Linked DNA regions of Homo sapiens. The protein of the gene in region 2 purifies or fractionates together with the protein of the main gene of each other region. This does not show direct contact. Each region holds a gene or a part of one and is shown on either strand. Other genes may lie near its edges.

What was found. Proteins that work in one complex are often made in the same cells at the same time.
Region 1: the proteins of AMFR (region 2) and UBAC2 purify together in Homo sapiens (affinity purification with western blotting; 4 studies listed by BioGRID and IntAct, with this or other methods). This does not show direct contact.

What each region holds. Positions count from the first base shown.
Region 1 is NC_000013.11:99,199,544-99,203,653, reverse strand, and holds the start of UBAC2 (ubiquitin-associated domain-containing protein 2 isoform 1 precursor), read right to left. Parts: upstream 2,801-4,110; 5' UTR 2,746-2,800; coding exon 2,715-2,745; exon of another isoform or gene 2,243-2,714; coding exon of another isoform or gene 2,087-2,242; intron 1-2,086. UniProt on the Homo sapiens protein: Restricts trafficking of FAF2 from the endoplasmic reticulum to lipid droplets.
Region 2 is NC_000016.10:56,422,746-56,426,698, forward strand, and holds the start of AMFR (E3 ubiquitin-protein ligase AMFR), read right to left. Parts: upstream 2,801-3,953; 5' UTR 2,583-2,800; coding exon 2,328-2,582; intron 2,245-2,327; exon of another isoform or gene 2,166-2,244; intron 1,990-2,165; exon of another isoform or gene 925-1,989; intron 1-924. UniProt on the Homo sapiens protein: E3 ubiquitin-protein ligase that mediates the polyubiquitination of lysine and cysteine residues on target proteins, such as CD3D, CYP3A4, CFTR, INSIG1, SOAT2/ACAT2 and APOB for proteasomal degradation.

The DNA.
Region 1 (4,110 bases), on a different chromosome or scaffold from region 2:
GATGCTGGTCTCCTTGATCCTGCTTATTACTTTATCCTCTGTATATCAACAGTGTGTGGCTGATATGGGTACCCAACAGACACTTATTGAATGGATGAGAGAGAAAGGCAAGTTTAACACTAAAATACTATTATCTACTAACCACAAAACGTGGGAAACATGCAGGTGGTAGAAAATGGCAGGGATTTATCCCTGGAAAGGGACTGTTATTCACCACCCATGGGGGTAGGGCTAGGTACACGTGTCGTCCTTCTTTCAGATTCTTGCTCAGGATCAGAATTTTGATTTGCTAAAGGGTCCCTCAACTTATCTAAAGGAAATCATAGGCAGTGGCTCACGCCTGTAATCCCAGCACTTTTGGAGGCCGAGGCGGGAGGACCACTTGAGGTCAGGAGCTCAAGACCAGCCTGGTCAACATGGCAAAACCCCGTCTCTACTAAAAATACAAAAATAGCCAGGTGTGATGGTGGGCACCTGTAATCCCAGCTACTTGGGAGGCTGAGGCGGGAGAATCGCTTGAACTCGGGAGGCGGAGGTTGCAGTGAGCGGAGATCCACCACTGCACTCCAGCCTGGGCAACAGTGAGACTCCATCTCAATAAATAAATAAATAAATAAATAAATAAATAAAATAAAACAAAGGAAATCACTTCTCCCTCAGTGGGTAGCTTCTCCAGAGAAAAATGTTAAAGCTGACACACAGCCTTTTCTAATGACCAGTCCTGGAAAACTGTGCCTAAGCTCCGTCAGCACTGTAAGCACTGAGACCAGGACCTGTTCGTTGCTGCATTCCCAGCACCTAGCCCAGTTCATCGCCCAGAGGAGATGCCCAAAATGTTTGTAAAATGAGCATGTAAGACACAGCCTTCTGAGGAACGGCCATCCCAACAACTCTTACACTGCAGAAGCACTTAATTTTAGAAACAGGCCAAGACAGCTGCAGAGGGGCTCCAGACCTACGCCTCTCCCTGGGCAACAGTTTGGTTCCTAGAATTCAACACTCACCACCATGTGCCATAGATAACAAAATATTATCTTCCCCACAGTTGCCCTGTATCAAATTTGAATACACTTGGCCAATATAATCTCATGGCTAATACAGTACAGCAACCAATAAGATTTCTCTTGCCCTTTATTTTTTTATATGTACTTTGGCCAGCAAGGATAGATCAAAATGCTAAAGAACAATTGAAATTGAAGAATTCCACCATTAATTTCATAACCAGTAGTTCCTGGCTCACTGTGTGATCCCAGGAAAACCACATTGCCTTCTTGAACTGTCAGCTTCAGCTACAGTCCTAATGCTCTTTATCTAAAGGGTAGTTTGGGGAAGATTACTTAGTAGTTGTAACATACTCCGGGACCAATCCATGAAAGATGCCATAAATCAAATTAATTATGAAACAAAGGAAATCATAAATATTGAAACCACTTCAAAACCTGAGAAGTTGAGAAGTGAGGAAGATTTAAAATTATGCCTGTGGCGCTGATACTAACTCACTGTCAGACTATAAGACGAGACACACATTCTCAGAAGATTCATGACATTCCCAACAGATCTTTTTTTTTTTTTTTTTTTTTTGAGATGGAGTCTCGCTTTGTCGCCCAGGCCAAAGTGCAGTGGCGCAATCTCGGCTCGCTGCAAGCTCCGCCTCCCGGGTTCACGCCATTCTCCTGCCTCAGCCTCCCGAGTAGCTGGGAATACAGGCACCCGCCACCACGCCCAGCTAATTTTTTGTGTTTTTAGTAGAGAGACGGGGTTTCACCGTGTTAGCCAGGATGGTCTCGATCTCCTGACCTCGTGATCCGCCCACCTCGGCCTCCCAAAGTGCTGGGATTACAGGCGTGAGCCACCGCGCCCGGCCAACAGATCTTTAATATTTGGAAATGTCAGATGTTTCTGTCCTCCAGCAGCATTAACTTCACATGGAGTATGAACAGTGACAAGCAATTGCAAAATTAGAGCTGTTCTCCGTTGCTGTACCCGTGCCTAACTGTTAACACGCAGTCTACCTTACCGAAAGTCAATTCCACACACTCAGTGAGAAAAGCCGTTTAACTGGCTGTAAAAATACTCCGCCCCCTACCTGCTGACCACCGCTAACACGCCAGGAAAACAGCAACATCCAGCAGCACAGCTGCGCTCCCTCGCCACGACTTCCTAACTTCCCTCCACTTGAAAGCACTCTCATCAGTGTGTGTTTGTCTAAAAACTCTTCTTGGAGACTGAAGAAGAAACACATCCAAGTGAAACTGAGAGGTCAGCTTCTAAAGCGGAGGCTGAACTTTGCAAGTGGGGGCGGGGGGAGTTAGTTCGGTCCCCCAAGCCTAAAAGAATGGGGCATGGTAAGGGGGACGGCCCCTTCCTTCAGCGCGGCACACGCTCCGCAAAGGGCCTGGGGCCGGCCCACGAGAACACCAGGGCACCTGCCCACTTGCAGCGGCCCCAAGAGACTCCTGGGCAGAGCACCTGGGGATACCAGGTGGGGTCGGGGCGGGCGGCGGGGCTTTGTCCCCATTCGCCCCTCCAGGCCGAAATGGGGGCGGTTTCCGCTGACCCCCAAGACCGGGAACTAGCAGGGTTCGGACGCGGGTCTGGAGGGTCGGCCCCACCACCTCCGGCAAACCCGAGGGTCCCCGCTGCCCCAGCCTCCTCAAAGAGGTGCCTAGGGTGGCGTGTAGGGGGCAGCCAGGATGGCGGAGGCCGGTACTCACAGAGCCCACTGGAGCCGGTGCTGGTGAACATGGTCCCGCCGGGCTCGGAGCCCCAGAGGGCGCCGGGGGAGGGGAAGCTGAAGTGCGAGCCCCAGCGACCGCGCAGGCGCACTCTTGGCGGAGCGACGAATCCGGCGCCGCGAGGCCACTCGCCGCTGACGAACGGCGCACCCGGCGCATGCGCAGTCAGGGGCGTGCGCCCGCTGGGTCAGCGCCCTCCTTCCTGCCGGGGAAGGGAAGTGCGTCGGTAGGGGAGGGCTCACCTCTCCAGGTTGAAACGATGGCGGTCAGAACCGCCTGAGGTAAAAACGGGTGGCACTGGGGAAGCGGAGGCGTAGCTCCCGAGAGCCTCACACTTGTGCTCAGTGCCGCCTCACCCCTGGTGGATCCGCGATGGCCGCGGATTCCCCTGGATTGCCGGCGCTGGGCAGGAGCGCCACTTCTAATCTCTCCCGAGACTGGACGCCCGGCGCCTTCCACGCGCGTTGTGTCTTTCCGGGCGGTCCCTCGAAGCTGGCTACCCCGCGGGCTGTTGACTGCAGTGGGATCTGGTCACTCAGATGCGGATAGAGGGGTACGGGAGCCGGAGAGGTGGAACAGGTCCTTCCGGGTGCGGAGAGCTGGGCCGTCCAGCCGCCTCTTTGTTCCCGCGTGGGTCCCGCGCGGAATCCCCACCACCGGGGCCGACTGTCGTGGTCCCTGGAGTCAGCACCCTGCCCTCCCCGCCGTGGTGGCGGGTGGCTGGGGGGTCCCCGGCCCGGCGAGCCCGGCGGAGCGACCCTGCGCTTCTGCCCTGGCGAGCTTCCGGACTCAGGCCATTTAAATTTTTTTCCCCAGCAGAATGAAGTTACTCTTTGCCAAAGTCACGGTTTTTAAATGTGTGAGCCTGAAAACATATCATGCAGTCGTTTTAAAAAGTTTTTTTTTAAGTTGATCTCGTGAAAGTAGGGAGTAAAAGAGTGGTTATTCTTGTACAGAGGAGAGTTAGTGGGGAGGAAGATGGGGAGAGGTTGGTCAACAGACACAAAGTTATAGTTAGAAGGAATAAGTTTTGGTATTCTCTTGCACGTTTGGATGACTATACTCAACGATAATGTTAACTTCAAAATAGCTAGAAGAGAGGATTTTGAATATTCTCACCACAAAGAAATGACAAGTGTTTTGGTGATGGATGTGCTAATTACCCTGATTAGATGGTTGCACAATGTGTATATGTATGGAACCATCACACTGTACCCCAGAAATACATGCAATTATGTGAGAACGCATGTTATGGGGAAAATTGACCACACTACCCAGCTAAATGAAAGGGATAGGCTATGGAGTACTAAAAAAAAAAAAGCATTTTCAGTGCTCATAAGTGCCAGCCAGTGTGCTAAATCTGTGATTCGTAGAT
Region 2 (3,953 bases):
ATTATCCCCTATAAAATTTTGCCATATTACTGAGGGTAGGGGAAAGTGTTGTTCACAGATATGCCCTCCAAAGTGCCCAAAATAACACCTTCGAAAGGTTTTAAATTGTGTTTGTTCATGAAAAACCTCCTGTGATGCTATCAGACCGATATTATTCTAAACTGTGCTCTAAAAAGATAAGTTTTGGGAATTACAATATGTTAATATCTAGCAGGACTTGCACTGGCAGAAGGATCAGTCTTTGTTTTGTCTTGCTTGGCCTTGGCAGGCAGTGTTCGTGAAAAAGTTGAATCTGAATTCAATAGAACTAGGGGAGGGCGCAAGGAGGATCCAGTTGACAAAGGCACCACCACATAGGGTATTCACTCAACAATCTTAATCTGTCCCACCACTGGGGAAGGCTTTTGAGATTGTCACTTCTACTCAGCTGCTAAAGCAGAAACTACATATACACTGAGTGATGAGACAAACAGTGAGCACATGGAGGGTCTGAGAAACCAAAGCAGGCCAAAGTAAACACGTGGAGACCCCAGAGGAAAGATGGAAGAAAAACAGCACTAGGATCAACTGAGAAATGAAAATATCATCAGCGGAGAGTAAGAAGTGATAAACCTGCCAGAGGTAAGACCTCTACTGAAAATGCTGGAAGAAAAGGAAATTTCCTAAAAAGTAATCATCATCACAGAAAAATCAACAGCTTTTATGTAATGTTTTCTGAAGAGATATTAACTTTAGAATCTGAACATGGCTTTTATCAAAATAAAGTCCTGCGGGGGGAAATCCATTAAACAATACCAGTGTTGTTATATAAATAAAATAAGGGTTCCTTCTCAAAGGCTTATTTATATCTTAGACTTAAAAAATATCAAAGACTACATTATAATCTTAACATGGCAAAAACACTCTCCATATCACTTTGTTTACCTGCTAACTCAAATGCAAAAACAGATTTGAAATTAAGCAAGAGATGTGAGTTGAGTTCTTTCGCTTCTCCCTTCTTTAGGACTGTAAAGTTCAGCTTTACACAGCAGTAGATAAACAGGAACTTCACCCTTCACTGCCTTCTACTAAACTCTCCATCAGAAGGACCAGGAGACTTAATCTACAGCCCACAGAGTCCATAAATCCCACCGCTTCCTGATGAAGCACAGTGGGACTAATTATAACAAATGAGTTGCATATCATACTATCAACTTGGAATATTAATCTCTCAGTCATTTACAGCCCACTTTCAACCCCAAATGGGAACATGCAAGGAGACAAGATCCAAGAAGCCATATTAAATCCAAGTGAGGCTTTAAATCCTGGAGAAACTTTTCTGATCACTGCGGGATTTACATAAGTATTCAAGGCCAAGATGAAAGCAAAATTCTCTAGCCAAAATACCGTTGATCTGATCAGTCTGAAATTATCTGTTCTAATGAACGAAACCAGCATGTGTGCCTTATCAATGCTGCTTATCTCGCAGGGGCAGACAACCTGGAAACTGTGTTAGAATAGATCCTCAAATAAGAAACATTCAGTTAAAATGATGGGCTGCCTCTTGACACTGTGAATGTTTTGCTGCGTTCAGACATCAAAGGAAAACTGTCATGAACATCAGGTAAAGGCAGCAGAAAAGGAAGCACAGTTTGGTGTTTGTTTCATTACACAGCTCCCAAAGGGGACAATCGAATACTAAGCGGCAAAAAAGTTGTGGGAGACGGCCTCTCTCCAACCGGAATGTCCAAAGACACCTGAGTGCCGAAAATTCCCCCATACTCAACGTCTGAATTCTCCCCTCTGCCCTCTCCTCTTCGTCGGAAGAAAATCCGCTAACAATCCCATGCCTGACCAAGTGGGAAAAGCTTTCAACTTCACTCTACTTCGTCCAACCCTCGGGATAACGCACTCCCAGATCCCGACCTCCCCTTGAACCTGCCCTCTGAGATCTTCTAGTTTCTCCCGAGGGTCCCTCAGAAAACCCAGCCCGTTCCTCCCCACTGCCCCTTAACCCCTTCCCCTGCCCCAGGCCCCGTCCGCGCCCCAGCGCAGACCATCACCCGCCGCCTCCCCGACCCCCTTCCCGGAGCCCTCAACGCTGGCCTGCCCCTCGGGGCCTCCTCCTCGCAACCCCACGCGATGTTCCTCCCGCCCGCGGCCCCCTCCCCCTCCCCGCGCCTCACCACTCTCCCTCAGCAGCGCTCCCGCGAGCAAGGCCGCGCCCCCCAGGCGCTCGCCCTCGGGGGTCCCTGGCGGAGGGGCCCCTAGGCCCACCACGCCCCCGCGGATAAAGGGTGACGCAGCGGACCCCGCCCCTGCCCCGCGGGCCCGGCCGCCTCGCTCACCCACACGAAGAGGCTGTCTGAGAGCAGGTACTGGGCCACATCGCGGGCCCGGGGTCCCCCGGCGCTCGGCCGGGCGGGCGCCGGCGGCTCAGGCTGCAGCGAGGCCGTTAGCTGGTCCGGCTCGCCGGGGCCGGCCTCGGGCTGGCTGAGCGCGCGGTAGGCGCTGATGATGGTGCCCAGCAGGGCCAGGCCGCTGAGGCCCGTGTAGGTGCGGAGGCTGGGCCAGGGGAAGCGCTCGAGGAAGAGCAGCGGCATGGCGGCAGCGGCGACCTCTGGCCCCCAGGCTTCCCTGCGCTGCGGCCGGGCCTCTGCGGCGGCCTCGCGAACGGCGCCCACGGGCTCTGGCGTCGCTGCCGCTGCCGCTGCCGCCGCCGCCGCCGCGCCGGGCCGGGCCGGGCCGCTCCTGGCTGCTGGCGCCGCTCCGCCCCGCGCTGCTCCCGCTGCTGCCCCTGCCGGCGCGGAAGAGCCTGGGCGGGCTCGGGACAGGCCGCCGCCCCCAGCGGGACGCTGGCGGGACGGGCGCAGGGGCGCGGCCTTCGTCCCCCGCCCCCAGCGGTCGCGCCGCCGCCTAGCGGGCGTAGCCCCGGGCCTCAGGCCGGGGGGCGGGCACCCAGCATCATCCGCCGTCCGCACCACGGCTTGGCTGGGCCCGCAGACACAGAGGGCACCTGCTCCGGCCGCGGCGCAGGGGTCACTCGGGCTCGCAGGCGCTGGCAGGCGGGCAGGGCCTCAGGGCGCGGGGCACCCTGGCCACCAGGCCGTCGGCCACTTGCCCCCCCCCCACCCCATTAACCCTCTGAAGAGGTTACCCCCAGCACTCCTAGGGGCCGCGCAGCTTCCCTGGTGCCCGAAACCCCAGAAGAAAGAATATTAACAGTCTTTCAAGTTTCTGCTGTTTGCTAGTAGCCTCCAGCAGAAACTAAAAAATGAACCTGATTTAGCGGGAAATAAAAATGTGTTCCCTCATACCCCAGAAGTGAGAATGTCAAATGGTGCAGCTGTCTTGGAAAATAACCTGTCCTTTCCTTAAAGTCAAACAAGAGTGACCATTTGACCCAGTAATTCCACTCCTCTAAGAAAAGTGGAAACATACCTCCACACAAAACTTGTACACAAATGTTGATTACATTCTAACAATCAAAAGATGGGAACAACGCTAATGTCCGTCAAGCGATGAGTGGATAAATGTGATACATCCATAAAATGTACTATTCGGCCATAAAAATGAACTACTGATACATGCTACAATAGGAACGAACCTTAAACACGTGCTAAGTCAAAGAAGACAGCCACAAAGGTCCACGTGTTGTGTGATTCCATTGATATGAAATGTCCACAATAGGCAAGTACATATACAGACACAGAAAGTTGATTAATGATTGCTTAGGGATGGGAGGAAGAGGGGAGTAGGGGGTGATAAAGGGTGCAGGTTTCTTTTAAGAGACAGGGTCTGTGGCCCAGGCTAGAGTACAGTGGCATGCTCACTGCATCCTCCATCTCCTGGACTCAAGAAATCTTCCTGCTTCAGTCTCTCCAGTAGCTGGGATTACAGGCGTATGCCACCACACCTGGCTAATTTTTAATTTTTGGTAGAGACAGCGTCTTGCTATGTTGTCCAGACCAGTC